Linked DNA regions of Homo sapiens. The protein of the gene in region 1 interacts with the protein of each later gene in a pairwise test. Each region holds a gene or a part of one and is shown in the gene's direction. Other genes may lie near its edges. The genes, in order: BTN2A2, SYT1, SLC10A6 and TMEM52B.

The links.
Region 2: the proteins of BTN2A2 (region 1) and SYT1 interact in binary tests that used the Homo sapiens proteins (3 or more experiments, as listed by UniProt).
Region 3: the proteins of BTN2A2 (region 1) and SLC10A6 interact in binary tests that used the Homo sapiens proteins (3 or more experiments, as listed by UniProt).
Region 4: the proteins of BTN2A2 (region 1) and TMEM52B interact in binary tests that used the Homo sapiens proteins (3 or more experiments, as listed by UniProt).

What each region holds. Positions count from the first base shown.
Region 1 is NC_000006.12:26,386,108-26,393,972, forward strand, and holds part of BTN2A2 (butyrophilin subfamily 2 member A2 isoform a precursor), read left to right. Parts: intron 1-1,905; coding exon 1,906-2,187; intron 2,188-3,897; coding exon 3,898-4,104; coding exon of another isoform or gene 4,105-4,163; exon of another isoform or gene 4,164-4,579; coding exon 4,580-4,600; exon of another isoform or gene 4,601-4,695; coding exon 4,696-4,722; exon of another isoform or gene 4,723-6,038; coding exon of another isoform or gene 6,039-6,188; exon of another isoform or gene 6,189-6,267; coding exon 6,268-6,860; 3' UTR 6,861-7,865. UniProt on the Homo sapiens protein: Inhibits the proliferation of CD4 and CD8 T-cells activated by anti-CD3 antibodies, T-cell metabolism and IL2 and IFNG secretion.
Region 2 is NC_000012.12:78,859,493-78,868,265, forward strand, and holds the start of SYT1 (synaptotagmin-1), read left to right. Parts: upstream 1-5,281; 5' UTR 5,282-5,617; intron 5,618-8,773. UniProt on the Homo sapiens protein: Calcium sensor that participates in triggering neurotransmitter release at the synapse. May have a regulatory role in the membrane interactions during trafficking of synaptic vesicles at the active zone of the synapse.
Region 3 is NC_000004.12:86,824,965-86,832,829, reverse strand, and holds part of SLC10A6 (sodium-dependent organic anion transporter), read left to right. Parts: intron 1-949; coding exon 950-1,038; intron 1,039-4,661; coding exon 4,662-4,837; intron 4,838-7,252; coding exon 7,253-7,410; intron 7,411-7,865. UniProt on the Homo sapiens protein: Transports sulfoconjugated steroid hormones from the extracellular compartment into the cytosol in a sodium-dependent manner without hydrolysis.
Region 4 is NC_000012.12:10,181,470-10,189,334, forward strand, and holds part of TMEM52B (transmembrane protein 52B isoform 2 precursor), read left to right. Parts: intron 1-1,080; coding exon 1,081-1,124; intron 1,125-3,860; coding exon 3,861-3,899; intron 3,900-4,950; coding exon 4,951-5,120; intron 5,121-7,865.

The sequences.
Region 1 (7,865 bases):
CAGAGAGAGTGACTTTTATATAAATAGATGATTTTTATTAAAGCACAACTAAATACAGAAACAAAGTTATCTATAATTCCTGCTAACTCCACAGAGAAAGACTAAGAATTTAGCTGGGAAGAAATTGGCAAGGCTTCAGCATAGAAATGCACTTAAACTGGGATTTCTAATAGTTTGTTAAAAGTGACACTAAGTGATTACCTCAGTGTTGCAGTTAGTGTATTTTGCTTTAAAAGGTATATTTCAGGACTGAAAAAAGCCTTTAAGTTGCAGAATAATTCGTGGTGACATTTCAGTCCATCAGACCAGTGGAGGCAAGGACTAGGAAATTGGGTTCTTCCCAGGGGGCCCCAAATCATAACAGGTAGGAGACCCTATCTTTGCTACTCACAAAGGCAACCTTACATCTGATTAAAACAGAATATCGTGGATGGAGGGCTTCTTGACCCATTGTCATGACTGTGTTCACAGCAGCACTGCAATGTTGCCCAGTAATGAATGGTTGTATGTGGCAGGGACCCACTACTCTTTCTCTGTAAAACCAACCCTGTCCTGGCCTTCCCTAGTCTGAATTGGGTTGCTGTAGGACTTTTTGTTTGCTTGCTTATTGTACTCTGTTTGTTGGATTGGTTGGTGGCTGATTTTTCCCTTAAATCTATTGTGTCATGCTTACCCGTATTGAACCCATGGAATGTTTTGTAGGACTTTGTTTTCCAATTTGCTGAGGTATTTTAATTTCTTTTCTAATTCAGGATTTCTGTGTGAGCCTTCAAATGCACAACTAGCTTTTTTCTCCTGACAAAAATTAAACAGAGCAGAAAGCACTAGGCTTAAGTGATTGCTTTAATTTTCTTTCTTTAACATAATTTGTTGGGAGACTTTACAAAGGAATTATTCAGGAGAAGTTTGGATGATCACGCATGGCTGAAGGGTCTCCCAGGACCATGCTTTTGCAGCTCTCTCACTCTGGGTATTCTCTTTCATTGAAGGTTCTAGTAAAGATAGAATATATTTAGGATGAGCCTGAATTATTAGGATTTTTGGTGATGATCTCTGACATTGAGGAGGCAATATGGTTATCTTAAGGATCCCAGGGGCATCCAGATATTTCTAATACATTGATGTTCTTAAAGGACTGTAAGAAAATTCTCTATTGGATGGAACCTCTGGGAGGTAAACAACTGTGAATTAGAATAAGAATTGGCTTTGCCAGCTAGTTCTGTCTATTCTCCTAAAAACCATCACCTCCTATGGAGGTAGATAGCCATGGTGATGTGAGGCCCTGAACTAGACAGAAGTGTCAGTGACTTTGGTTCAAAAAGTTTCTTAAGATTTAGCCAAGGCTGAGCATAGTGGCCCATGCCTGTAATCCCAGCACTTTGGGAGGTCAAGACAGGTGAATTGCCTTAGCTCAGGAGTTTGAGACCAGCCTGGGCAACATGGCAAAACCCCATCTCTACAAAAAAAAAAAAAAAAGAAAGAAAGGAAAAAAAGCTTCTGCCAACCTGATAGGTTTCTGTCATTAGTGTATTATTTTAGAGCTTCAGGAAATTGAGGTCTGCAGAGAAGTCATCCCAGGAGCAGAAAGTGAAATTCTCAACCTGCCTGTTGAGAATTTGGACACACCCTCCTGGAAGTGAGAAAATTAGTCTTTGCCAGAATAAATTGCACAGCAAGCATTTATAGCAGACAGATAGATGCTTGGTGCTGTGATGGGGCCTTCAGGTGGAGCATAAAGAAAAGTGTGCAATGTGATCCTTTCTCTTTGAGATCTCACAATTTATTTTGCATATTGGTTTCCTGATGTTCTCCAAAACCAAGGGTCTTTCTAGCAACCATCCATCAAGGTGCAGTAGGGGCTAAGATACCACTGCCTTTTGGCTGAGCCCTGGTCTCCCTTTCCAGGCCTTGGGTCTAAGCCCCTCATTGAAATCAAGGCCCAAGAGGATGGGAGCATCTGGCTGGAGTGCATATCTGGAGGGTGGTACCCAGAGCCCCTCACAGTGTGGAGGGACCCCTACGGTGAGGTTGTGCCCGCCCTGAAGGAGGTTTCCATCGCTGATGCTGACGGCCTCTTCATGGTCACCACAGCTGTGATCATCAGAGACAAGTATGTGAGGAATGTGTCCTGCTCTGTCAACAACACCCTGCTCGGCCAGGAGAAGGAAACTGTCATTTTTATTCCAGGTTAGTTCTCTGCCCTCTGAGACCTATCAAGTGTATGCAGGATCCTCAGCACCCAGATGGAGCCCAGAGCGGGAATGGGGGCAGCAGTGTGGGTGGAATGGTCCTGGGCCCTGAGGAGCTGGAGGCTGCAGCTGAGTTGAGACGTCTCCCCTCCTCACAAAGGGAGATTCAAAGAGTCCCAAAACACAAGAGTAGGAGCCTCTTCTCTGAGGGTAAACCTGGTCTTTTTTTTCTTGATTAGGTCTTTATGCTGCAACAGTTGTAAAATATTAAGGACAACCATCAAACCTGGAGAGTAGTGTGGGTGGGTGACTGTCTATGCTTGGCATTCCTGTATGTTGCAGCCATCCCTTCCTGTCTATGGGACTTCCCAAAGGACAGAGCTGGGGAAATTCCCTATCAAGAGACATTCATAAATGTATTCAACAAATGTTCAACAAGCATTTCTTATGTTTAAGACTGTACAGGAAACCAAGGGTCAATAATTGAACAAAATATATCAAAATTTCTCTCCTCAAGGAGTTCATATTCTAGAGAGAGACAGCGGCCGGGCACGGTGGCTCACACCTGCAATCCCAGCACTTTGGGAGGCCAAGGTGGTTGGATCATGAGTTCGGGAGTTCAGGACCAGCCTGGCCAAGATGGTGAAACACCATCTCTACCAAAACTACAAAAATTAGCCGAGTGCGGTAGCAGGCGCCTGTAATCCCCGCTGCTTGGGAGGCTGAGGCAGGAGAATTGCTTGAACCCAGGCGGCAGAGCTTGCGTCAAGATCGTGCCACTGCACTCCAGCCTGGGCAACAGAGTGAGACTCTGTCTTAAAAAAGAAAAAGAAAAAAAGGGAGCGCGAGAGAGAGACAGCAATATATGAAATAATTGAAACAAGTGATTAAATAAATAATAATCTATATATTCTATCACATGGTGACGAGCATGTAGGAAAAATTAAGCAAAGAGAAAATAGAGAGTTCCAGGGGTGTGAGGCATCAGAATTATTAACAAGGTGGTCAGGGAAGACTTCACTGTAAAGATGGAAATTGAGCAATCAAGACAAGGAACCATCAGATGCTTAAGGACTGAGCAGCCAAGGTACAGGAAGAGCATATGCAAAAGGCCTGAGGAAGGAGCTTGTCTGGCAGTTTCCAGGACTCCCAGGAGGTGATGCTGGTGTGGCTGAAATGGAGTGAGTTCAGGAAGTAGGGGGAGATGAATTCACAGAGTGATGCAACTACGTTATATATGGCAGCACAGGCCACAAACAGGCTTTGGCTTTTAGAGTGAGTGAGTGGGAAGCATTGGAAGGTTTTGAGCAAATAATTAACATGATCTCACTTGGGCTGCTCTGCTGAGAGTAGATTACAGAATAGAGCAGAACAAGAAGGAGGGCACTCTAGTATTCCAGGCGTGAGTGATGGTGGTTTGAGGCAGGGTGATGGCTGTGCTGACTCAGCATGGCTGGTTAGTTTTATGCACTCTGGTCCTTTCCATGGTGACTCCAGATGTTTCTGCTTTGCCCCCTTCTGGGCCCGGCCCTGGCAGTCACTGAGGTGTCAGCCAGTGTTGAGCCAGCATCGCTTTCTCCATCTAAGGTTTCTGAGGGAGAAGCCAACAGAACAGGTGGCTGAGGAGCTCTTCAGATGTGCTCTTAGGGGCACTCTCATCCAGATGTTCTATTTCAAACTAAATGGACTTTTCTGGCTGCCTTTTCAGAATCCTTTATGCCCAGCGCATCTCCCTGGATGGTGGCCCTAGCTGTCATCCTGACCGCATCTCCCTGGATGGTGTCCATGACTGTCATCCTGGCTGTTTTCATCATCTTCATGGCTGTCAGCATCTGTTGCATCAAGAAACTTCAAAGGGAAAAAAAGATTCTGTCAGGGGAAAAGAAAGTTGAACAAGAGGAAAAAGAAATTGCACGTAAGGAATTTGTAAAGAAAGTGTGGAAAAATAGAAAGAAATTCAAAAAGAAAAGTTAAATGAGTAGGAGGACAATTGACTGTCATAGAAAGGCCACAGCTCTCACAGGTACCGGCTTAGGGAAGAGAGAGAGGAAATGCACAGCAGCAGCCACAAGGGCTTGGAACTCTCATGTCATAAGAAGTAATCATTCAGAGCTTTCTTTCTTCCATGCTGCACACATTACATTCATTCACCTGGCTATATGCAGCACTACATGGCTGAACGAAAGTTCAGACAAAAGTCTAACAATGTACTGATACTACCCAGCCATCTGATCATACATCATTGCTGGTTTCTGACTGTTCCTTAGGCATAAACGAAGGGTGATGTTGGTGTTCATAGAAAGGATGGTTCCTACGTTGTTTAATACAAGCTCAATTTCTCTTAGTTCTTCTGTTGAAGACATGATTTTGTTTCTGTATTTTGTTTTCAGAGCAACTTCAAGAAGAATTGCGTAAGTTTAGCCTTTCCTGAACTACTCCGTGTACAATTTGTGTTCTGCTTACTTAGCAGTGTCTCGTGACATTCACCTCTGTCTGTCCCTTGCAGGATGGAGAAGAACATTCTTACATGCTGGTGAGTGCCTCTGATGTTCTCTCAGATCTCAGCTTTCTCCCCACTAGCCAGCTAACAGGACTCCTTAGAGGAGATGAGCAAGGGGCCCAGGGCTACACAGGGACCATAGGGAACTGGGGTCAGTTCATCAACGGTGTCCCAGCAATGATGCATCATGGCTCTTCTGTCAGGGAACCCCAGCAGCTCTTAATGAACCCTGCAGTTTACATCCCCAGGACCCTTTCTCTTTTGGAATAATTTAATGCATGATTATCAAAGGTTTCCCATGCATAGTAGCCTCCTAAGAGTTACATTTCAGAAGTCATTGCTCTTTGATTCTGGATCAATTTGAAATAAGATAATGCTGTCTTAGCAATTCATATCCTGGGAATGGTATAGACTGTGCACAGTTGAAGACCTATGTGAGGAAAAGGCCATAAGGGTCCCCAGTAAGCCTGATGCAATGGTGTACAAATAGGTGGCCAGAAATACCTTTCTGCCTCTAAGAGAGCACTGATATTCTGCATGTAGTCTGCCAGGGGAAGGGGTTTGGGTGAGTGGGAGGGTGAGTGGGAGAGCACAGAGAAACCAATCGCCCACTTCCAGTGAGTTCTCATCTTGTGATTCGGCACCTCTGCCTGTCAGCACCAAAGAATCCAAACTTTACCAGATACCAGGGCCCATGGACCTTTCCTCTTTGGCGAGTTTCAAAATTGCCACTGTCATTTTGGGACACAATCACAACTTGTCACAATCAGACATATCAACTTGTGGAAAAGAGAAAATCATTTTAATGCAATAGAAAGGTAGACTGAATAAGTAAGAATACATGCAGAAGGTAGAGGTTTGCAGAATGCTCAGCTCCTGGGGCTTTTCCTGTATGGGAGAAGTAATCCTGGTAGATGTCAGACTCATATTGTTAAAGCAAAACTGGATTGAAGTATTTCTTCCCTAACTTTGCCCACACATCCCTCAGGCACCAGGTTTTCTTTTGCACACATTTATTCTCCTTCTTTATCCTTTGAAGTGTGCCCTTGTCAGCCACTTAAATCAGTTGTCACCTATTAAAACAACCTATAGGACCAACGAAGAGGTCCTTCACCACCTAGGACAGTGTGTAATGATAGACTCACTTAATTGATCCATTGAGAGGTATGTGGGGGAACAATAGGAGATAAAGCTTCTGTGATGGTTTAAGCCAAGTTGGAAAGTTTCTAACTAAAGAAAGTCCCAGAGATCATATATCTTGAATAGAAAAGGGATCAGATCTTAGAATGCTGAGAAAAACTGGGAACCATTAATTTTGGCTCATTTCCTAAACTCTCTGGATTTCATAGAGCCACAATTCTTCTCAACCTGGGGGCACTGCTTCTGTCTCTGGAGAGATAGAAGTGCAGCTTCCGTAATTCTCAGGGTATGAGCTGCCTGGGATCAGGGGACCTTCATGGAAACGGCCACTACATGGGGAACCCCCTTCAGCTTTCTGAGACTTCTCTGGGGACCAGGAACCACACAATCCCCAGGGTTCCTGAGACCCCAGGCATAAACCTGAGACTTCCTCTGCAGCTGATGTGGTCCTGGATCCAGACACCGCTCATCCCGAGCTCTTCCTGTCAGAGGACCGGAGAAGTGTGAGGCGGGGCCCCTACAGGCAGAGAGTGCCTGACAACCCAGAGAGATTCGACAGTCAGCCTTGTGTCCTGGGATGGGAGAGCTTCGCCTCAGGGAAACATTACTGGGAGGTGGAGGTGGAAAACGTGATGGTGTGGACTGTGGGGGTCTGCAGACACAGTGTTGAGAGGAAAGGGGAGGTCCTGCTGATTCCTCAGAATGGCTTCTGGACCCTGGAGATGTTTGGAAACCAATACCGGGCCCTGTCCTCCCCTGAGAGGATTCTCCCTTTGAAGGAGTCCCTTTGCCGGGTGGGCGTCTTCCTGGACTATGAAGCTGGAGATGTCTCCTTCTACAACATGAGGGACAGATCGCACATCTACACATGTCCCCGTTCAGCCTTTACTGTGCCTGTGAGGCCCTTCTTCAGGTTAGGGTCTGATGACAGCCCCATCTTCATCTGCCCTGCACTCACAGGAGCCAGTGGGGTCATGGTGCCTGAAGAGGGCCTGAAACTTCACAGAGTGGGGACCCACCAGAGCCTATAGAATCAATTCCTTGGACTCACAGCCATGCAGATAAGCCCTGGCCATCTCAGCAGCCACCGCACAACCCCCCTAATGAAAGACACGCCCTCCTCCCCTCTGGTCACGTAAGAGAACATCTTCCAGCTGCCTTTTTCACACCCACTCCAGCCCTCTGCCCCAGTTTTCTCCTCCTCACTAGTCTGTGGCTTTAGTAGTTCCTTTGCTTGTAATTATGGGATGGGATCCAGGCATAGGGAACTAGTTGTTTCATAGCTCCCAGTCAAAAAGAAAGTGAGAGAAGCTGTTGGGCAGCGAACCTACTGTTTAAAATCAGGATAACCACATTAAGCCCAATATGCCAGTTGGCACCAGATGCTGTGGACTTGGAATGAGGCCAACAGGGTTCACCAGGATGAGAGAGGAGAGAGGAATCCACAGGACCACCAGAAGGGAGAGGGAACCAGATATGCAGATCAGAGATAGAGGAAGTGGAACCAGAGAGCTGGGAGGGACCAAGGTTGTAAGGATGGCTAAGTCCCACCATAAGAGCTAAAGGGTCCTGGGAGATGATGGCTCATTTCCACCCAACCCCAGGATTTCCACAGCACACACCCACAGGCCTGGACCTGGGATGAAGATGAATGAAGAACATGGACTCATGTGGATGTGGTTTGGCTCAGATGTCCCTGCAATAAACAAGGGGTCAGTACTTAGTCCCTGAGTGTGGTTGAGGTTTGAGGTCCTGGTCGAGCAGGGCAGTACTGGACCAGGTCTACGTCAGCATTCAGGTTCAATGGGGACACCAGTGGCTTCAAACTTCCTGATCTAATTATGTTTTTAGACACTTAGAAGTTATTGAGGACTTTAAAGAGCTTTTGTTTATTTGGGTTAATATTTATGACATTTGACATTGAAACAAAAATTTAAAATGTTATCTTTTAATTTATGTTAAAATAGCATTAATAAATCAGTTATAGGTTAATGTAGATAGGATGTTTTGTGAAAAAGCAATCTATTGTGTCCAAA
Region 2 (8,773 bases), on another chromosome or scaffold:
ACTACTTTTATTTTGCCCCTGAGATAGATTCACCTAAATGATATTTTCCTTGCTAACCTCAACAGCCTGACACAGTATATTACTTTTTGAGTAACTGTCCTCCTTTTCATTTCCAATACTTTCTTAGCCACATCTTTAAGAAAAGGCTTTTGTAAAGCCACATAGAAAACTACTAGCTCTTTGTTTTCCTTTCTTTGGAAATTGTGAAGTTTCATCGTTCAATTATGGGGCTCTAACTCTCTGCTCCAGAGACTTGACTCCCATCAGTATTCATTTTTTTTCTTCTCCCATTTCTAGAGTCTCTTTATTAAATTCCATGGATGTTCAGTATAAAAATCAACACAGCTAATTTCTAATCTAATTCTGATACAAGGAGCCTTCATGTTTTTTCTTTACCAATTGGTTACAAAATCACTAGCAGTAATCCCAGGACAAATGATCTTGAGAAAGATGAATGGAAGAGAAATAAAAATGATGGCTCTACTGTCTTCAAGAGCATTTTCTAGAAAACAAAACAAAACAAAACAAAATAGTGTTCATCATTTTTTTTTTTGCCACCAGAATTGGATATTTCTTAATTTGAAAGAATAATATAAACAAATGTTTTTATGAAAAAAAAGCTTAAGTATCCATCCCTAAAAACTAAATTATTCATCTCGTAGATGATTACAGTGTAAGACTACTACATGCAAGACAGATGACTGTTGTCATTTTACGTATTAAAAAAGTTCTGTATCCAGGCGCGGTGACTCATACGTGTAATCTCAGCACTTTGGGAGGTCAAGGTGGAAGGATCACTTGAGCCCAGGAGTTCAAGACCAGCCTGGGCAATATGGCAAAAAAAAAAAAAAAAAAAGAAAGAAAGAAAAAAAAAATTAGCCCAACATTGTGGCATGCACCTGTAGTCCCAGCTACTAAAGAGACTAAGCTGAGAGAATCACCTGAGCCTAGGAATTGGAGGATGCAGTGAGCCATGATTGAGTCACTGCGCTCTAGCATGGGCTACAGAGTTAGACACTGACTCCTCCCATCAAAAAATAAATAAAAGTTCTTATAACATGAATTAACACCCTTCTACCTTTAATGCTCATAGGTGAGGAGTCTATGGCTCACTATTGGCTTAAATGGATGAGATGATGGGAGGAAACCCAATAACCCAGAAATCTGGAAAAAAAAAATAGTAGTAGCAGAAGTAGCAGCAATGATAATGATAAAATGATAATAATAGTCATTAAGTTCTTGCTATGTGCTTGGAACTAGCACTTTATGTGCACTGCTTTTTTTAATCCAGAAAAAAAACCTAATGATAAATGTTGTATTCTTATGTACATATTTTAGATGACAAAACTGAGACTTGGAGGGGTTTTGTACATTTTTCAAGGTGGCATAGCCAATTAGTGGTGAAGCTGGAATTCTACCCAAATTCTGACACCAGAAAACATTTAATTAATTATCTGTCCTGCAAAGAGACCAAAAAGTCAGTATCTTGAGAAACACAGATATAAAGTGAAAAGAATAGTAAGATCTGCATCTATATAAAAAATAAACAAAAAAATAGAAAAATTTAGAGAAGTCAATTATTTTTCTTTTTTAAAGAAACAATCCTGGGTAATGATATTTATAAATAGCTTTTACCAGACAACTACTGTGGCTACTAAAGATATAAAGTTTAATGATGTATGAGTCTTAATTAAATGTAACTCTTTTTTTATTATTTATTTATTTTGAGACAGTCTCGCACTTGTCACCCTGGCTGAAGTGCAGTGGCGGGATCTCGGCTCACTGCAAGCTCCGCCTCTCGGGTTCACGCCATTCTCCTGCCTCAGCCTCCTGAGTAGCTGGGACTACAGGCGCCCGCCACCACGACGGGCTAATTTTTTGTATTTTTAGTAGAGACGGGGTTTCACTGTGTTAGCCAGATGGTCTCCATCTCCTGACCTCGTGATCCGCCCACCTCGGCCTCCCAAAGTGCTGGGATTACAGGCGTGAGCCACCGCGCCCAGCCGGATTAAATGTAACTCTTTAGTATCATTGATCAACCAGGTAATTCTGGCCTTTCCAACAACCTGCAGAATTTTCTTGATACCTCTCTCACGTTAAGTATTCTTTCTGTGGTTTACAGAAACCTTGGCTAAGTTTCCACTTAATGAATTTCTAGTTCTAATGTCCCTAATTCCCACTCTTGCCATAAGACACACTTTCCTCCTCAGTGCCCCAATCCAATTTAGTTTCTATTCTGATCCTGTAGCCTAAAATAGATGGCAAAGGAAGCATGAAAGTAGTAAATAGATGAATCCAATAAAAAAGGAATAAAGAAAATATTGAAAATGAGATCTTGATCAGAGCAAAATGTGAAGAAAAATTAATAACACTTTTTTAACGAAGAAAGAGGAAACAAAACATTAAACAGATTTTGTAAAAGTTCTGAAAATAATATTTTTAAAATACCATACAATCAGGGGATAAGTTAATTCTCAACAGCAAAAGTACTCTAGATGTAAAAGTACTTAAGAAATGGAATGATAAGAGTGACAAAGAGCTCTCTCTTTGTCTCTACAGAACAATTGACCCGATCTTCCTTTTAATAAAAATGAGTCTGCTTCAATAGGCAAAGAGATGATACACACTTGCGGCAAAGTATAATGTTGTGTCAGCCCAGTAGATCCAGGAGGACGTCTTCAACACATTCCCAAGAGCTTGGAGAGAATTTAGGAATAGGAGGGAGAGTTAAAATCTTAGTATAGCTACAGTCACCATATAAATAGAGTCTTCTTATTATTTATGTACAGAAAATGTTATCAATTCTAAAGTTAAGCACAATATACATGTAAAGCCCATTTCTTATTTTAACCTGCAGTCTCCCTCAAGGAACATTGGGTTACAAACTTCTGATACCATTCATGTTGCCAAGGATTCTGGCCACTGAAATAGAAAGATTGCTAGGTAAGATGTGAAGTAAACAGGAAAAGAAATTGACTAAAATATTAATGACAAAATCAGTGTCTGGAGCAAAAATTTTAAAATCTGTATTTGTATTCTATTGACTAATTTATTCTAAAATAAGCATACTTTTTTTCTACATGCAGCTATTGGTAAATAGGATAAATGTGCCAGTTTTAATCACTGGAATCTAGAAAGTATGCTAGGCATATATTTAGAATAAAGATCTATATTAAGTGGATATTATAATAATCTTCTCATCCAAAGATATTTATTGGACAACAAAATTACAGGGTTACTTAATTCTTCTTCGTCTTCTCTTCCTCCTTCTTCTCCTTTTCCTCCACCTCACCATCCTCCTTCTCCTCCCCTTCCTCCTCCTCCAACTTCTTCTACTTTTTATCCTGTCGTTTTTCTTCCTTCTCTGTCTTCTCCTCCTCCTCTCCTTCACTAAATAACTGAAATAAAATTTAGACCAAATTCTTTTATCTTATTTCTCCAACTATGAAATGATTTTAAAATAAGGTTTGGAGACTATTTTGGAAAATGGAAAGTGAATATTTACATGAAGTCACAAGTCTGGGGTGCATTATTTTCACACTTCTACCTCTAATGTTAAACTTCCTATTATTCAAGCATAGCCCAAATACAAGTGTTTGTCACTTAGAAGGATATATTTATATCACGTTGCCTTCTTTTCCCGTATACTTAGAATAAGGATCTTAATCTTAAACATTACATAAGTAGAAGAGATTTAATTAAAAACTTGAAGAAATGTGTTACTGTTAATTGAATTCTTGCTACATTTACCTTTGCACACCAATGTTAATAAAACTCCAGTTCAAAGTGGATGGGTTTGGGGAATTGAGATAGCTATTTATTTCCCTACCTGAGATGCCAAGATAATCTTCTCAGTAAAATAAAGAACCCAATTAGGAGAGTTCTCATTTGTAGCTATTGATCAAGTTTACACAAAATGCTAGGATTTCTAAATAAAACAAATAAGAGGTTCAAAGGCCTTTAAACGAGGTTGAGGGAGGGAGAAAGGGAAATAGTTCTCTCCGTTTTGAAATCCTTTCACCTGTGGAGCAGATAATGGACGGGCCCCTCTCCCAGCTGGGCTCCGCTCCCGCCCCTAGCCTGGCGCGCGGTCCCTTCCCCCACCCGCTGAGCCTTCCTGTTCGGTATTTCGGTATTACCAAGCTATAAATTGCCTGAGAGCTTAGAGACAATCAGGTCACCACCGCCCTCACAAGAGAAAAGCTTCTTACTTCCGAGCAGAACGGTTCAGCTGGGAAGAGAGGAAGCAGGGAGAGAATCTATGCTTTAGTCGTCACTGCTCTGGCAAGGGGTCGAGAGAGATGGGGGAGGGAGGTGGCAAAAAATAAAAATGAAAAAATAAAAAAGCATCTCCAACAATGTTGCACTTGACCCAAGTGTACAAACTTATTGGTCGCTGCAATGGAAACTCCCAGTGCACTCTCCACGGCCTGGCAGCCGCCGCTGATGGGTGGAGTCGCGCTCCCGGCCCCACCTATGGGACGGAGCTGCTTCTCCCGCATCTCGGCTCCACCGCACCCTTCGCGGGAAGTCCCCAGGCTTCCAGCAAAGCTCAGCTTATCCCGCCCCCGCTTCCAACCCGGAACCCCAGAAGAACAGCATGATGAGCCTCCGGCAGCCAGGTGGGCCACCTCCCCGCGGCTCAGTTTGAGGACACTTGTGCGGAACCCTTTCACATCCCCACCCTACCCAGCTTTCACAACTCCGCCGGGTTAAATGGCCAAAGACAAACTTCTACCTCTCCTGTCCCCGGTCCCAGCTTTTCAAAAACCCACAGCTGGCGAACCCACACACATCGAAACTCCTAGGTCGCTGTTGCAGTCTGGGCATGCTCAGTATCAGGGTAGGTTTTGATTGAGAGTAAAAAAAAAAAAAAAAAAGCTTTGTATTATGCTCTCTTTCTCCTGTGCATACTGCTTGCTGAACAGCTTGTGGGGCATTCCTGAGTCTACCTAGAGGTTTTATCAGACGCCCTTGATTGTGTCTCCTTGGGATCTGTTCCCCTCTTACTTCACCCCCTCCCCCAACCCGCCTCCACCCCGCTTCCCAGGTCCCTGTCCGCTGTGGGGATGGAGAGACACTAACAGAACTGGGATGGGCGATGTTGGCTGAACGGATCCACCTATTATTAGTGCGCGGGGATTGGCTCCTTGGCGCAGCGTACCCGAGGTGGAGCCAATCAGGATGCTGGGGCTCGGAGATGATGGGCGGCCGCCTCCTCACTGGAGGGATTCCTGGAGAAGCTGCAGTGTGGGGATGCTCTAGACCGAGTACTGCCCCCAGTGTCTTTCCACCTCCTCCTGCAGCAGCGGCAGCGGCAGCAGCAGTTAGCAGCGGCAACTTGAGGCTGCACCCCGGGCAAGTCCCCAGGGTGGTGCTCAGCCGAGAGGGGGGCTTGGCGCCCCGAAGGGGTGTGTGTAGGGTGGGGGCGACCACGTGGGACCAGCTGGTGGCCCTGGAAAACCTCCCACACACCCACACCCACACACCCCTTTTGTGTTGCAGGCTGCCCCTCCAAGAGCGGAGGCAGCGAGAGTACGCGTGTGCCTCGCGCCGGTCCACGCGGGGAGAGCACTGGGGACCGAGACCCGGCACCACCTCCCGGTCCGCCCTCCAGGTAAGGAAGCGGGACTGGCGGCGCGGCCACCTCGGCGGTGCCTATCTGCTCGAATCCATCCCAAAGATTTTCTTCTCGATACACTTGGGTTTTAGTGGTGGGAGTCTGAGACCTAGGGAGGGATCCCCGGGTGGCCTATTGTGAGAAATATGAGACTACATGTGCATCTCCTGGAAAAGCACTTTGCACAGCGCCCGTGATTTAGAGCCTGGAGTTGATGTTGGGCATCCCCCATCTTCTTGCTTCCTCTTTCCTTCTCTTGTTCTCTCTCCTCCGTCCCCCACCCCCAATCTCAATCTTTTCTCTCTTTCTCTCCCACACCTCCCCTCTCGCCCTCCTCCCACCCTAAGCACGCACAGCGTTTCTTTCTCCTCCTGGAGAGGATTGCCTTTCTTAGAGGAAAGAGGGGGAGTGAAGAAAGGAGAAAGATTTCTTTCTGTTGGGGAGAGGGATATGGGGGGGGGGGGGAACGTAAACAAGATAGAATACAAGCTCTGCGAAAATCAGAGCACATAAAGCAATTAAACTGAATAAGGGGAGTAGACAACCAGTCCAGCTTGGGCTGTCAGAGAGAGGAAGCGTCAAGTTTGACTTGATTTCCTCCTTGCAAGAGTCTATGTCTCTCACTTGATTCGTTCAAATGGAACAAAAATAAACCGACAATCCAACCCACTTTCAACTGCTTAATTGCTTTTGCTTTTGAGTGCCAACCATCTGACTTTTCCTGTTTCCATCTGTCCTGTGGGGCTAACAATTTGGTATTGCACATCAGTGTTAATATCTGAACTTTGAAAGCTTTCTTGAGTAACAAAAAAAAAAAAACAATTAAAATAGATTATTACTTTCCTGAGGTTTCTTGGTATGGCCTGTTGTTGGGGGATCAAAAAATGTAAAGTTTCAAAACATTTGCAAGGGACAACAATTTTATAGGGAGGCTTGGATTTCTACTTTGAGAAAGCTAATCTTCTAGTTAGCTTTGTGTACATGTTGATATTCACTTTCTCCAGTATTAACCCTTTCGTGAAATAAAGCAACTGTTTAACTTTTGTATGGAAGCTACATTTGTGTAGAATTTTCACTTTATTCTACCTTTGTACTATTTGCATTTTATTGTCTGGATACCAAACTTATGCCTGGCTTTATTTTCTTTTAATAGGACAATATTTAATGGATGTAAACATGATGTTTATACAATTTCAGCACTCCCTTTAGAAGGCACATGGAGGCTCAGTTGGACAAGAATCCTCCTGTACTGGAACTAAGTTTAGAAAGTAATGCTAGAAAGATACCCTAAATTTTAAAAATCCTGAAGGGGAAAACATTTTTGTAACGTCTTGTTAAAAGAAAGAAAAATATATCAAAACACCAACATGCCCCTGGCTGCCTGCATAATAGGTCAAGTAAATGGTACTTGTTGGACAGAGCCTTTACAGCAGCTTCAGCAGTCTCTAATTCCATCATTGGGGATATAAGCTTTCTTTTCTTATTATTCTTCAGGGACAGCTAAGCGATAGTACTGTCAGATGGAAGGAGGTATAGAGAAATGCCTCGTTTGATGTAATAGGAAAGCATTCCAAGTGGGTCTTACCTGAACACAGAGAAATCCACAGATGTTAGTATACAAAACACTTCTTTTTATTTATCAGGGGAAATGCAGAGTCTTACTTTTTTTTGTCTAGAACTCCACTTGATATAAGAAAAGAGAATCTTCTATCTTAACTGTGTCTGACCTTCCACACTAATTTTGTATCTCAGAGAGTATTTTTTCACTACGTACGTTTAATATATAAGTTTACACACCAACTTAGAGAAGAGCTGAATTCATTTGCCATCAGTGTAATGTGTACTATTTTCCAAACCATTTTGCATTTGAGGCAATGATCTCTCCCTAAATAGAATTACCAAGTCACGAAAAACGATTTTCTTTCTAGGGCTTTGACATTTAAATGAAAAAAAAAAAAAAATAGTGTCTCTGTTGAAAGCTAACTCTGGTTTTTAGAGGTGCCACCTTTTGGTTACAAGGACAAAGGGACAATCACTTAATTACCTCACATGTATGTACAACTGAATTAACAAGTTTAGACATGAAAAGATGTACAAAAAGGAAGCCAGCTGCCTTCATGTGAGAAAATTAAGATTTTGTTTTCTCATTTCTCCACTGTCTTAGGAATATGTGAAAATTTAGGCTTGGTTTGTGACATTTATTTTCATGACTCTTTACAAATGTTAATTATAGAAATAACATCTAAAAATATGGATATGAGTAGTTTTTCAAATACTTCTAAAAAATTCAATATCTGTGTATTGGAAATCAGAACTAATTCCAATATATAGTGAGTGGATTGGGGAGAGACCTTACATGATATATTATAGGAAATTCTTACTTTGTTATCCCACAAAATAGTCTAATGTCACAATTTCATACAATCTTTGTTTTTTCTCCCTTTGACAGGATATTTTAGTAAATCTCATTAATGTTTCAGAGTAAATATGATAATTATGCCTCGAGGTATTTTTGTCAGAATTGAAGACTGCTAATATATAGGGAAAATCCTAAAATACTAATTTCACAAAAATACCACATGATTGAGAGTTGTTGCTGAGTAGTTTTGAACTTCATTTCATAATGGAGAATATTAGTTATTTCATCTGGTCAAATTATCAGATAGTTCTAATCAACAAATATGAAAATGAATAACATTGTATTTATACGATTTGCATATTAGACTGAAATTGAAACTAAAAAATAGTATTAATTATATGCTTGTATTAATTATATGCAAGATGAGCTGGAAGATTAATAAAATAAAATGTAGAATATGTTAGAAATCTGAAAGTTAATTTGAACTTCCTGTTAGCCTAATAACACCATTAACATAATATCAGTTCATCACTTTTGATGTCAGTATATTAAGTTGATTTTGAGAAAATTCCCAAAACAGTTAGAGCCATCTAATCTTAAAGAACACACACTTAATGCAGACAATTATACGAGCCTGAAATATAGTTCTTATGATTTCCAGTTTGTGCAACAACCAAGAAGAGCTATCACTAATTCCAAATTGAAACATAATATTTATTTTCCTAATGGTAATAATTAAGTAATTTGGGGGGAACAAGAAATAAAAACAGTTTGATTATATAATGGAACAAATC
Region 3 (7,865 bases), on another chromosome or scaffold:
TTGAATGTAAATAATTCTTACTGATTATGAAAACTCATCTACATGTCACAGTCTCACCCATATCTCTTTCATTATCTCCTCTTCTGAATATTATTTCTCATGAAAGTCTGCCATTTTCCTAAAGATCTCTGTGGGTTTAGCAAGCTTAGAAGAGAAATGTGGTGAAATGATCTGCCTTTTCTAGTGTGGTCAGTTTTTGAAAAAGTGATAGGCACTATGTTTTTTTGTTTTTTTTTTTTGAGACAGAGTTTTGCTCTGTCACTCAGGCTGGAGTGCAGTCGTGCAATCTCGGCTCACTGCAACTTCTGCCTTCTCCTGCCTCAGCCTTCCGAGTAGCTGGTACTACAGGTGCAGGCCACCACACCCGGCTAATTTTTTTGGTATTTTAGGAGAGACAGGGTTTCACCGTGTTGCCCAGGCTGGTCTCAAACTCCTGAGCTCAGGCAGTCCACCCACCTTGGCCTCCCAAAGTGCTAGGATTACAGGTGTAAGCCACCGTGCCTGGCCAACACTATGATTCTTAAGACTCTCAGTGTCAATCTGGTGTCTCAGGTAAACACCTTGAAGGCTTACAACCCATGGCCCATAGTTCAAAACCATGAATGAACCCACTTCCTCACAATAGCGGGAGCCCACTGAATCTGTAAAATTTGAGGGAAACCTTAATTTAGAAACCATGATTTTATGTGCAACTTTTTTTCTGATCAGTAAGTTATTTAATATATTCTGCTTTGATAATATGTTCTGAAAGGCACTCACAAGACGCAAAATGTTATGAGCAGCTTATATAACTTTGGAGCCAATATTGTAGGCATTTATCCAGACTTGGGAAGTGGCATGGGAAAATGTCAGTTTAAAGCTGTTACCTAATTGAAATAGAAGTTGTTGGGAAGTACTGTGCAGTCAGGGTGAGAGGGAAAACCCTCTCATGGATTTTTCTTCTCTTTAGGAATTACCCTTGTGTGCCTGACCATTCCTGTGGCCTTTGGTGTCTATGTGAATTACAGATGGCCAAAACAATCCAAAATCATTCTCAAGGTGAGTGACTTCATGGCCACTGTTGGCACGTCCTCAGACTCAGGGGCCTGAAAGACAGAAGTGAGCAGTGGCTGGGACAAGTGAGCTTGTTGAGTACGGCCCCACACCCAGAAATTCTTCTTACACATCCTGTGGTTTTGGATCCAGGGATCATATTTCCTCCACCCTGTAAGCCTTGCTTTGCCACTCCCATAGTTCTGTACCCTGAGGCTTATGACGCCCTGGAAAATAAGCAACTATTGATTTAGTGTCAGGAAAGCTAAAGCCTGTGTGTGGACAGAAGAGCCCAGGCCCATCCATAAACAAGGCTTCACACAGGTGCTCTTGAGGCAGAAGCTGTTCAAGTGAGCATGAAAGGGAACCCCAGTGTTTAGTAATATGGCTGGTTTCTTGGAAGAGTAGGAGGAAGGGCTGTCTTGCAGAAGCATTCCTGGGGTCACGGCCAAAGCTGTTGTTTGTACACATGAGCAAGGGCTGCTGACTACATGAATAAGACTGTTTAAATGAAATCATCCAGGAAGCACTGAGGAGTCTAGCTATGGAATGATGGTGACTAGAACTTTCTACCTCCTCTTGTCTTTGCAGTCCTGCCCTTTGTCTGCTGGAGAAACAAGCAAATGTCTTTGTTAAATGGCTTTTAAAAATAATTCAAGAGGCCAGGTGCAGTGGCTCACATCTGTAATCCCAGAACTTTGGCAGGCTGAGGTGGGAGGATTGCTTGAGGCCAGGAGGTTGAGGCTACAGTGAGCCATTATCATGCCATTGCACTGGAGCCTGGATCACAGAGTGAGACCCCATCTCTAAAAAATGAAACAAAACAACAAAACGTAAAGAGGAGGCATTCTTAACAATGGTGTGAGTCTCCTAGGGTGCTTTCCATTTTTTTTCTGATTATGTATCACTTTAGCAGATAGAAGGTTGTAATATGTGTGGCTTTCATGAAGATTTTAAAAATGTTTCAGTTATATTTTACATTTATAAAGAAGTAAACATTTGGGGTTATTTAGAGTTTCATGTAGTAAATCTCAGTTAATTTTGTTTTCTGGTTTATGGTTTGGCTTGGTTTAAGCTTTTGCCGTTTGGCTCTACCTCACAGAACATTGCCACTCTATATGCCTGTGCTAATGGACACTGTTTTCCCAGTTATGCACAAGGCCAAACCATTCCCACCATTCCTTCAGTGCGATGGAGAATGAGAGGAGAGGGCTTGCCAAGCAGAAAATCAGCTGGGCACAGAGAGCTGGAGGATGGCTTAGTATAGTACATTTGTATTGCATATGGATGACTTTAACATCAATAGTGCACACCTGATTTTCACTCTCCTTTTTTAGCTGTACTCATGGAATAAAGTCCCATCTTTTCCACATTTATTTTTAAAAATTAATTAAGTTTTTGAGATAGGGTCTCGCTCTGTCACTCAGGCTGGAGTGCAATGACACGATCATAGCTCACTGCAACCTTGATCTCCTAGGCTCAAATGATGCTCCCATCTCAAGCTCTGAGGTAGCTAGCACTACAGGCATGCACCATCCTGCCCTGCTAATAAAAAGATTTTTTTTTTAGAGACAGGGTCTTGCTATGTTACCCAGGCTGGTTTGCAACTCCTGGCCTCAAGGGATCCTCTGGCCTTGGCCTCCCAAAGTGTTGGGATCACAGGCATGAGCCACTGTGCCTGGCCCCTTTTCCACATTTATTATTGTTATTTCAGTAGGAGAAAATTTCCAGTGTGGTAGTTATGATTTTGTTTACAAAACAAGAGGAGGGAAATGATCATGGAAACTTCTTGCTTTTCAAGTACTCTATCTTTGATTATTTTTCTTAAAAGGGCATTTAACAACAATAACAAAAATAATGCTTTTGGAGTTTTCCAGCTCCTCTATCAGTCCATCAGTGTCAATGGAGAAACCAGATACATTTTTTTACATGTCAGTTTTATTTTCTGTAACGAGCAAATTTAAAACTCTTTTCTTTTGGGTATTTCATAGGATTTATGGCAAAACATTTAATAATATGCATAAATATTCTAGACTACCTTAGTAAAAAAAAAAAACTAGGCTAATGTAATCATTATTTTAGTATATCTTCATTCCCTGTTCTTAGTTCCATTTTAATTTTAGATCTGACACATTTTCTGAACAAACTTAAGTGTTCCCCATTTGCTCTTGGTGGATATTAAACTTTGAAATCTTTGGTAGAGAGAGGAAGAGGGGATGTTACATTCAGAGGCCTTAGTTCCATTTTAATTTTAGATCTGACACATTTTCTGAACAAACTTAAGTGTTCCCCATTTGCTCTTGGTGGATATTAAACTTTGAAATCTTTGGTAGAGAGAGGAAGAGGGGATGTTACATTCAGAGGCTTTCTTTCTTTCATTTTTTTTTTAAACGGAGTCTTGCTCTGTCACCCAGGCTGGAGTGCAGTGGCGCAATCTTGGCTCACTGCAACCTCCACCTCCTGGGTTCAAGTAATTCTCCTGCCTCAGCCTCTTGAGTAGCTGGGATTACAGGCATGTGTCACCACGCCTGGCTAATTTTTGTATTTTTTAGTAGAGACAGGATTTTGCCATGTTGGCTGGATGGTCTTGAACTCCTGACCTCAGGTGATCCGCCCACCTCTGCCTCCCAAAGTTCTGGGATTACAGACATGAGCCACCATGCCTGACCAAGAGGCTTTCTTGTCTTAGCATCTTTTTCTTAGGCAGGGGTCTAGTCTGTCTCTGTATTTGAACAGTAAAAATGACCCCCAGAACACATTTATGGTATATTGGGTCATTCTGTTTGTTTGTTGTCTTCTCTAGTTTCCTACGACCATCCTCCTTCACATCCTGAATCATTTCAAATCAAGGTTGACACTGTAACTAGGTACACAGTTTACTGTCTACATGATATGAACAGGAGCTTGCCAAGATCCTGATTTTCCCAAAATACCCTAGGTTATGCTTTCTTCCTATTTTATCTAAATCTCAAACTATTCAAAATTTTGTTATTGTTGGCTTTTGTTTCTGTTCTTGTTAAACAACAAAAGTAAGGACAGTATCCATTTGGGAGAGGATAGAGGTCTCCATCAGTATTTCTCATGTGATCATGAGTATTAGCTCAGATTGTCCAATGAAGAATGGGTAAATTTTATTTGGAGGGGAGAAGGACAGGGATCAAAGCAGCAGGCAGCTGCTGGTGGTTGAAGGGGCGGTGGGAGGGGAGGCAGATGGTCAGGCAGGGCAGACGTCAGACTGGAGGTCACAAGCAGAGGGTCATAGAGGTGTGTGCAGGGGTGTTGGAAGCTCATTGTCAGATTCCATTCATTTTACACTTTTGTTCTACCCACAATAGAACTCTACTACCCAATCCTTTTGGCAAAATCTTCTACTTGAAGAGAAAGGTAGATATGCTAAAGCGAGACTTAGATTTGTGTCAAACTCCACCAATTTCTAGCATAGGCAAGTTACTTGACCACTTTGGAACTCAGATTTCTCCTCTACTAAATGAAATTGTATTTAGTCATCTCTAAGTCCCTTCTTTGTTCTAAAATTTCTAGATCCCAAGCATTTTACAACCTTGATGGACTTTGTATCATAGAGCAAAAAACCCTGAGTTTATATTCACTTATTTTATTGTTTGCTTCAGATTGGGGCCGTTGTTGGTGGGGTCCTCCTTCTGGTGGTCGCAGTTGCTGGTGTGGTCCTGGCGAAAGGATCTTGGAATTCAGACATCACCCTTCTGACCATCAGTTTCATCTTTCCTTTGATTGGCCATGTCACGGGTTTTCTGCTGGCACTTTTTACCCACCAGTCTTGGCAAAGGTATAGTTAAACTATCCATAAACTTTTTTGAGGAAGGTAAATTTAACACACTGCCACTGGTAGGCTTTGCTGCCTGTGTCAGGAGACATGAAGAGTTTTGACTTACATAGTGGAATCGACAGGATAACTAAGCATAAAAGAGGGTCATTCATGGCAATTCATGGAAAATATTGTGGTAATTCTTTATGTAAATTAAAGCAAAGGCCAAATTGATAGGAAGAGATAAATTTAAGTTAAAAAAGAATAGAAAACGACATGATTTGATTCCCACTTCGTAGAAGAAAGCAAAAAGAATTCTATGCATCAAAATATACTGGAAGAAATACACCATATGGTAACAATGTTTAATTTTGAGTAGCGAAATTAAGGATAATTTTAGTTCTTTAGTATTTCCTTGGTATATTTTTGAAGCTTTTCAATAAGTATGTACTACTTTTAAAAGCAGAAAAAAATTACTAAAGAAGAGTAAACTATGCAGTTGAATTCCAAAGGTGAAAGTTGGGAATTTTTAATTGGCTTTATGCTACTTCTAATCCACTTGGGGAACATTTAGGGTTGTACTAAGCGCCCGGTAAAGCTTTACCCCATCTATCTCATTTACTTCTTACTACAAGCTTGAGAAGTAGATCCTATCACTACCCTCATTCTACTGATGAGCAGACCCTTCAGAGAAATTAAGTGACTTGACCAAGTTCATAGAGCTAGAAAATTGTGGAGTTAGGATTTGGACCTGGGTTTGTTTCCAAATTTAACAATTAGGAACACAGTCTGTTGAGTGGTTGAAATGCAATTGGCTCTGGACAGAAAGTACTCCTATGGCAAGATGTAGTCCACAATCCCATCTTTTTCATACCTGATAGCCTGACAAAGCCCAGGACTGAGATTTGGCTCATGAATGGTGCAGGTGTGAGTTCCAGCTTTGTAGCTTAATCATATCGAGTTTTTGACAAAAGTCTCAAAGAAGTGAGGGTGGTTTGAGACAAGTGTAGCAAGCAATAGAATAAGTAGAAATAACGTATGAACACAGAGCTTGCCCTGTACCATTGACAGCATTTTCACCCCCTCATTACACACCCTTGTTACTTCCCCATTCCAGTCCAGCTTGCACAGAGGTGCTTGTTTGTTTTCTGAAACACCTCTTTTATCTCCTCACTTCCACATATAAAACACTGCAGGCTCCCTTTATAAACTGGAGACGTGAAACTGCTTAACTCAGCCCTCAACATCCTGCCCAGGTCTTCCCTCTATTCCCTCCTTTGTCTTTTCAAATGAGGTTTACTTCATTTTATGCAACCAGAAAACCAATAAAGTATAGAAAAGTAGAAAGCAAAAAGAAAAATTATTACCAAACTCTTTCACCAAAGATAATCATTTTAGGAATTTGGTCTTTATTCAGGGTTTTTGTGTTTTTATTTATTTATTTATTTATTTATTTATTTATTTATTGAGACCTCGTTGCCCAGGCTGGAGTGCAACCTCTGCCTCCTGGATTCAAGTGATTCTCGTGCCTCAGCCTCCCGAGTAGCTGGGATTACAGGAGCGTGTGCCACCACGCCAGGCTAATTTTTGTATTTTTGGTAGGGACAGGGTTTCACCATGTTGGCCAGGCTGGTCTCGAACTCCTGACCTCAGGTGATCCACCCACCTTGGTCTCTCAAAGTGCTGAGATTACAGGCGTGAGCCACTGTGCCTGGCCTTGTTTATTTGTTTTTAAGTGTTGGTTAGTTTATATTGTTTCATATGTCTTTCAAAAATATATATACGTTTTTCTTTTTGTAGAGACAGGGTCTTACTCTGTTGCCCAGGGTGGTCTTGAATTCCTGGCTCAAGCAATCTTCCCGCTTCTGCCTCTCAGTGCTGGGATTCCAGGCATGAGCCACCATGTCCTGCATCATATCTCTAACTCAACTTTCCATTCTTGTCTCCTCCAGTCCTCTCCTCTCTGCAGATTGGCTTACAGTATATGCAATGCCTGCTGAACAGGCCACACTCACACCTCTCCCTGGAACTTTAATTTTTATAATATTTCCCCCTCATCAAAAGCTTCTTCTATTTTTTTCCATCCTTAAATCCCACTCCTCTGTGAAGCCTTCTCTCACCCCTTCTGCCATTTTCTAAATTTCTACATCTGCGTGGCCTTTGGCCATACTTTGTCTTGTGTTGTTGCTGAACCTCTCCTGTGTGTTTATCTTGTCTTTTTACTCAGATGCCTAGGGCAGGGTTTGCAAAGCCTCACTCCACCGTGCCTCTCAGAAGACCACCTGCAGAATAGGCACTCAGCAAATAACTATGGAATGAGTACACATTTTCAGTGGCCTGAGGTCATAGCTTCTAATTGTTATGATGCATATGAGAAAATATTAGAATAGTTCTTATTGCTAGTGCGTTACTCTTGAAACATTTTCTTTTTGGTAGGTGCAGGACAATTTCCTTAGAAACTGGAGCTCAGAATATTCAGATGTGCATCACCATGCTCCAGTTATCTTTCACTGCTGAGCACTTGGTCCAGATGTTGAGTTTCCCACTGGCCTATGGACTCTTCCAGCTGATAGATGGATTTCTTATTGTTGCAGGTGGGTGAACACCCATTGGGTAGGAAATAACTGACGGGAAATTGTTCACCCCAACTTACCAACTTTTTTTTCAATCCAAACTTGCATGTGCTGCCCCTGTGATACACTTTTTGAAAGCCTGACATTTCTGGGGACGATAAGGCACATAGACAGGATAGTTTGGCGCACAAGTGGGAGTTTCACAGAAAAATATAAAAAGCCATCTGAAAATGAGCTTATAATTATAAACAAATATACTTCACAAAAGTGAATCCACTATCAGAACTTAGACTTCGTAACTTGTTAAGACAAGATCTCTATGAGCAATCATTGAGCTCCAAAGTGACATTTGCTGCACTTAAGCGTTGATTTGTTAGGTCTCATTAAAAGCCTTGAGGTCTCCCAAATGCCAAGTTATTTCAATGTTTCTGTGACTAAGACTTGTGCTGAATGGCTGTGAAATGTTTTTCAAATAT
Region 4 (7,865 bases), on another chromosome or scaffold:
CAGGCGCACATCACCACGCCGGGCTAATTTTTGTATTTTTCGTAGAGACGGGATTTCACCATGTTGGCCAGGCTGGTCTCGAACTCCTGACCTCATGATCTGCCCACCTTGGCCTCCCAAAGTGCTGGGATTACAGGCGTGAGCCACCACGCCTGGCCTGGTCACATTACTTAAAACCCTGTGCCTTAGTCCCTTAACCTTTCAAGATAAGGTTAAATATACCCACCAAGAGGGTTATTGTGATTAAATGTTATGAAATATTAAGAGTTCATGGCCGGGCGCGGTGGCTCACACCTGTAATCCCAACAGCACTTTGGGAGGCGGAGGTGGGTGGGTCACTTGAGGTCAGGTGTTCGAGACTAGCCTGGCCAACATGGTGAAACCCTGTGTCTACTAAAAATACAAAAATTAACCAGGCGTGGTGGCACGTGCCTGTAGTCCCAGCTACTCGGGAGGCTGAGGCAGGAGAATTGCTTGAACCCGGGAGGTAGAGGTTGCAGTGAGCCAAGATCACGCCACTGCACTCCAGCCTGGGTGACAGAGCAAGACTCAAAAAAAAAAAAAAAAAAAACAAAAAAAAAAAACTTGTTAGCAGTCTGAGTGGCATCTAGTAGCTATTCGATAAATAAGACTCTCTGTCCCACTGGCCCCCTCGCTTTTCCCCTTCTTCCTTTGTATAGTCATTGTCACACTAACAGGATAAAAAAAGAGCAGTGGTGTAGAATTCAACTGGGCAGGAATTAGGAGGACAATGGCAATATCCCAAGGGACAGAGAGATCAGGAATTTTCTACTACAAACAAATTAATGTAAATGGCTACCTCTCATTCACAAAGGGTGATGCTCACCCACCATCAACACAACAGATGAGATATTTGTTCTTCAAGGTTCCCTTACCTCAAGTACAAAAGCCAGCAAGTATGGGAGAGATGAAAATGGCAGTCCTAAATAGACTGCCCCTATGACCGTGACCTTCTTACTGCTTGATCTAACACAGCACAACCATGAGAGATGATTGGTAAGCAGCTGAACACAGTGGCCAAAACAATTTCCCTGTATAAGACAATTTCTCTTTCTACAGCTTTCTGGGACGAGATGTGAGGAAAACTGTGGTAATCCTGAACAGTAAGTATAGAGTTCAAGCTGGGAGGAAGGAGCAACAGACCAAAACATCACTACCCCAAAAGAGAGTCAAGATGTCATTAGACATCTATGACTTCTTTTTATTTATTTTTACTTAAGTAATAGATCTCATAGATGACTTATCACAAAATAAAGACGTGTTTTTGTCATCTTAAGCACTCAAAATAACACTGCTGACAGCATGTTTTTACCCAAAGCCAATCTTCCCATCAAAGCAGCACGATTAATCTCAACTTATACAGTCATAGAGACTTGCAAAAGACTTCCTTAGCCCTGCTCCTCAGTGACTCACCAGGACAGACGGTTTAGTATCTAGTCACTGGCATATATATTTGGGTGATTTCCAAAGTAACATTATTACTTTAAATTGGGAAAGTATTTTCTAGTTTTTAGGGCATGTTAACATTTATTGGGCAGACTTCATTTAGCTATCACTTTGATGTAGTTATCAACTAATCCAAACCTGTCACACTTAAGTCTTATGTAGACACAGAGGACATGAAGATAAAAATGCAAAAGAATCATTCCACTTAAAGGAACTGTAAAATACAAATTTTAAAAAGTAGTGGCACTTTGAATAAAAACGTGTTTAGGATGAAGAAAAATACATATTTAGCCATGGGAAGGGTTTCCCAATAGCCAGGTCTGTTAAACCCAGGGAAAGGGTGATAGCCTTGATTACCTGTCACATGCAAATTGGGTGTTGACTACTTGACACCTGCTTTCTGAGGTTTTACACATCTTCCACCATAGGAAGAGTCCTTTCCTATAAACCAGAGTCTAATTAGAACTAGAAGAGTTTTCAACAAGTAAGAAATGTGGGAAAACCAAGAGGAGTCATTGTTCAGTGAAAAACAAAACAAAACTATATTTTCTATAAATGTGTGACCAGAGAATAAAAATAGATTCACTAGATTTCAGTAGATTCCTGTATCAGAAAGAATTATTAAATAACAAAATTTACTACTCTTCAAAGATACACAAATATTTTGCCTCCCCTCATTCTCCAATTCCTGAACTTATCTTCTCCTTCTCCCATACAATCCCTATTTTTTTTTCATTCTTACAGAGAAAATTTACAATTGCCATAGTGAACTCAGAACATTATTTAGCTTTCATCATGGTAAAGTTGGCTTCTACTTTTTTCCCTCTTCCTGTTTGGTCTCAGTGGATATGCAAATTAGTTTTGATCCTGGATGTGAAAAATTAGGGTACTCTTTACGGTGGGTGTGATATTGTGAGAATATATATTTGGTTTTGTCCCTATCTCCTAGCATACAACTTCTAAAATCCCCAAAGTAAGTAGCATCATTTTGCATGCTAATGAGTTGATTGGTGGCTGGCAGCCCCTAGGTAGATTTAGGATGGGGCTGGTCATTGGAAGGACCAATGCAGAATGCTTAAAGCCTCACCCCTCAACATCCAAGGAAAGTAGAGGGGCTGAAGTTTAAGTTGATCATCAATGGCCAATGATTTAATCAATCACGCCTACATAATGAGGCTTTCATGAAAATCCCAAAGGATGGATTTGAAGAGTTTCTGTAAAGCTGAACAGGCAGTGGTTTCTGAAGGGTGGTGCACTCGGAAGACCTGCAAGCTCCGTGCCCCTTCCCACATGCTTTGCTCTACGCATCTCTTCATCCGCATCCTCGGTAATATTCTTTGTAATAAACTGTAGATGTAAGTAAGTGTTTCCCGGAGTTCTGTGAGCTGCTCTAACAAATTAACGCAACCTCAAGAGGGAGTCAGGGAACCCCCAATTTATAACCAGTAGGTCAGAAGCACAGGCAAAACAAATTGTGATTGGCATCAGAATTCTGGGGAGCCGTCTAGGGGACTGAGTCCTCACCCTATGGGATCGGATCCTATCTCCAAGCAGGTGGTGTTGGCATTGAATTGAATTAGAGGACGCTCAGCTGTTGTCTGTTGCTGGAAGATTGCTTGCCTGGTGTGTGCGGAAATCCTCACCCACCCACATCTGGTGTCAGAGGGTTGGGAGAGTATAGCAGGAAGAAACTAAGTTTTTTTTTTCCTACATTCTCAGTGGGAGTGTTGCAACAGCTTGCAAAAGATAAATTACAAATGTGATTGTATGACTTTCATACTCATAACTGAAATTTTCTTTATGTTTACATTTTATTGACCTCAAATATACACAAGCCTTAAGTTTCACATCCATTTTCAAAGTTACTCTTTGTAAACTTGCATTCCAAGTTCTTTCTTAGTATTTTTTTTTTCTTTTTGAGATGGCGTCACCACGGCCGGCTAATTTTTGTATTTTTAGTAGAGATGGGGTTTCACTATGTTGGCCAGGCTGGTCTCCAACTCCTGACCTCGTGATCTGCCAGCCTTAGCCTCCCAAAGTGCTGGGATTACAGGCATGAGGCACCGCACCTGGCCCTTTCTTGGTCATTTTTATCATAAATGTTTGCAATAGGCACAGACATGTTTTCTATGGACACTTCTAATGATCACTAGTTTGTTTTATAATGATTTACAAAATGACTCAGACAATGCCATCTATAGTATAAAGTACTATTTAAAGCATATCATTTGGCAAAAGATTCAACTAGCTACAGTGAATTTTAAAAACATAACCCATGGTGCTTTATTTATAACAAGGTATCACATCATATTGTAACTCATATTTCTGAGTCTGGAGTTATAACAGGGATTGACTATATTTTTAATGTAGAAAACTTTATTCTTTCTTTATAGTTGCCTGACCACAGACTGGGTACATCTCTGGTATATATGGTAAGTTTCACTTATAATACCCAGAAAGACACTGTATTCCTCAAGGCCATTAAAAATGACAACCTGCCTACTTACTTAGCATCTCATGGAGTAAGATTTCATTACTTCATCACTACCTATGTGACAATATGTCAGGATTTCCTTTTTCAATACCATCTCCTCCGCAAACATCAAACCATTACTGTGTCCTTCCCTCGGAGTCTGTTCTAGAAATATCTCAACGAAGATTACTTTAGTGAATTAAAAAGCAGAGCCTGGCCGGGCGTGGTGGCTCACACCTGTAATCCCAACACTTTGGGAGGCTGAGGCAGGCAGATCACTTTGAGGCCAGGAGTTCGAGACCAGCCTGAGCAAAATAAAGAAACCCCCATCTCTATTAAAAATACAAAAAAAGTTGGGCGCGGTGGCTCACACCTGTAATCCTAGCACTTTGGGAGGCCGAGACAGTGGATTATCTGAGGTCAGGAGTTCAAGACCAGCCTGACCAACCTGGAGAAACTCCGTCTCTACTAAAAATACAAAATTAGCTGGGCGTGGTGGCACATGCCTGTAATCCCAGCTACTCAGGTGGTTGAGGCAGGAGAATCGATTGAACCCAGGAGGCAGAGGTTGCGGTGAGCTGAAATTGTGCCACTGCACTTCAGCCTGGGCAACAAGAGCAAAACTCTGTCTAAAAAAAAAAAAATTAGTCGAGTGTGGTGGCATGTGCCTATAGTACTGGCTACTCAGGAGGCTGAGATCGTGCCACTTCACTCCAGCCTGGGCAACAGAGCAAGACTCTGTCTCAGAAAAGAAAAAAGAAGCAGCCCCCCAAACTACCTTAAATGTCTTACTATTTGTTCTAATGAATTGACTTACTGCAGCTGACAAAATAAGGAGGTGTATCTATAAAGCAAAAGCCTTGAAATTAAAATTATAAATTAAAATATTTATAATTATTCTATAAAATGTTTAGACAAGAATCAAAACACAGACATTAAAGACTGGTTACAGCAGAGCTGGGAAAAAAGCCAGATCCCAGAGCTCCCACTCGCCCCGTGGGCTTTTGCAGGTTGCTAGTGGTAATTGGCGCGCTGCTTCTCCTGTGTGGCCTGACGTCCCTGTGCTTCCGCTGCTGCTGTCTGAGCCGCCAGCAAAATGGGGAAGATGGGGGCCCACCACCCTGTGAAGTGACCGTCATTGCTTTCGATCACGACAGCACTCTCCAGAGCACTATCACATGTGAGTACACTGAACTTTTAACCTGGGAGGAGGACCCAATTTAAGGGAATAATGAAAAGGGTGCAAAGGTGTAGAACCACTGATCGAGTAATATTAAAGATTCCAGGACTCACAATAATTTCCATTCCCAGAAGCCTGATGGTGCAGTGACCTGGGCTGTCACTGAAGCTGTGTTCTCAAGGGTCTGTCTGGCTCATGATAAAGAAAGAAGTGAAATATTGGAGGCTATTGGAAATATTGAATAGGAAGAATTAGCCAGTTTATAAATAGTTACTTTGCTAAAAACTATTTTGAACTCCAAACGGATGCCTTTTTCAAAACGTCTTGGATTTTGTGAAATCTACTTTTTCTATTATCTATACTATTTTATATTTTTAAAGAAATTAATGACATGTACTTTCAGTTCTTTATTCTTCAAGGCTTGATACACTAAATTTTAGCCTTAACATTTTCTCAATGATTATAAGACACTTTCCCTTTTCTTCTGTGGTTCTATTCTTTCCATGACGGTTTTTTTTTTTTTTTTTTTTTGAGATGGAGTCTTGTTCTGTCGCCCAGACTGGAGTGCAGTGGTGCAATCTCAGGCTCACTGCAACCTCCGCCTTCCGGGTTCAAGTAGTTCTCTCCCTTAGACTCCAGAGTAGCTGAGATTACAGGCACCTGCACCATGCCTGGCTAATTTTTGTATTTTTAGTAGACACGAGGTTTCACCATCTTGGCCAGGCTGGTCTCAAACTCCTGACCTTGTGATCCACCTGCCTCCGCCTCACAAAGGGCTGGGATTACAGGCGTGAGCCACCATGCCTGGCCAAAATGGTTACTTTCTTTTTTTGACACGGAGTCTCCCTCTGTTGCCCAGGCTGGAGTGCAGTGGTGGGAATCTCAGCTCACTGCAACCTCCGCCTCCTGGGTTGAAGAGATTCTCATGCCTCAGCCTCCTGAGTAGCTGGGATTACAAGCAGCCACCACCACACCAGGCTATATTTTTTTAAATTTTTATTTATTTATTTGTTTATTTTTATTATTGGTAGAGACAATTTACCATGTTGGCCAGGCTGGTCTCAAACTCCTGACCTCATGATTCACCTGCCTCTGTCTCCCAAAATGCTGAGATTACAAGCATAAGCCACTGTGCCTGGACTATGCTCTTTCCTAAAATTGAGGAGCAAGTACCAGTCAGAACACCAGCTGGCAAAATGTGGATATTTATTTTGAAAAGAGAGTGATGGCTGGGCGCAGTGGCTCATGCCTGTAATCCCAGAACTTTGGGAGGCTGAGGCAGGTGGCTTACTTGAAGTCAGGAGTTCGAGACCAAGCTGGTCAACATGGTGAAACCTCGTCTCTACTAAAAATACAAAAACTAGCCAGGCATGGTGGCACACACCTGCAATCCCAGCTACTTGGGAAGCTGAGGCGTGACACTCGCTTGAACCCGGGAGGCAAAGGTTGAAGTGAGCCGAGATCGTGCCACTGCACTCCAGCCTGGGTGAGCGACAGAGAAAGACCCTGTCTCAAAACAACAACAACAACAAAATAGAATGATATGATGTGTTGCTGTTCACCTTTCCTACCTCCCCTTTCTCACTGTCATCTTAGGAAAAAAGGATAACCAAGGCTGGGCACGGTGGCTCAGTCCAAGGCGGGCAGATCATCTGAGCTCAGGAGTTTGAGACCACCCTGGGCAACATGGTGAAACCCCGTCCCTATTAACGTACAAAATTTAGCTGGGCGTGGTGGCACGGGCTTGTAGTCCCAGCTACTCGGGAGGCTGAGGCACGAGAATCATTTGAGCCCAGGAGGCGGAGGTTTCAGTGAGCCGAGATGGCGCCACTTCACTCCAGCTTGGGCTACAGAGTGAGACACCATCAAAAAATAAAAAAGGAAAGAAAGAAAGAGAGAGAGGGAAGGAAGGAAGGAAGGAAGGAAGGAAGGAAGGAAGGAAGGAAGGAAAAGAAGAAAAAGAAAAAGAAAAAGAAAAAGAAAAAGAAAAAAGATAACTGGGCATGGTGGCTCATGCTTGTAATCCCAGAACTTTGGGAGGCCGAGGCAGGTGGATTATTTGAGGTCAGGAGATTGAGACCAGACTGGCCAACATGGTGAAACCCCACCTCTACTAAAAATACAAAAATTAGCCAGGCACTTTTGTTGGCCAGGCACGGTGGCTCACACCTGTAATCCCAGCACTTTGGGAGGCCGAAGCGGGTGGATCACAAGGTCAGGAGATCGAGACCATCCTGGCTAACGCAGTGAAACCCCATCTCTACTGAAAATACAAAAATTAGCTCGGCGTGGTGGCGGGCGCCTGTAGTCCCAGCTACTCAGGAGGCTGAGGCAGGAGAATGGCGAGAACCCGGGAGGCGGAGCTTGCAGTGAGCCGAGATCGCGCCACTGCACTCCAGCCTGGGCGACAGAGCGAGACTCCGTCTCAAAAAAAAAAAAAAAAAAAAAAAAAAAAAAAAAAATTAGCCAGGCACGTTGGCACATGCCTGTAATCCCAGCTACTCGGGAGGACGAGGCAGGAGAGAATTGTTTGAACCTGGGAGGTGGAGGTTGCAGCGACCCGAGATTGTGCCACTGCACTCCAACCTGGGTGACAGAGTGAGACACTGTCTAAAAAAAAAAAAAAAAAGAAAAGAGATGAGGTAAAAATAAATAATCCTAAGGAGTCTATAGTATCGGGGGCTGGGGGAAAGGGATCTAAGTCTGAAAGGGGAAAGGGCAGGGTTGAGTTGCAGGATGCAGAAA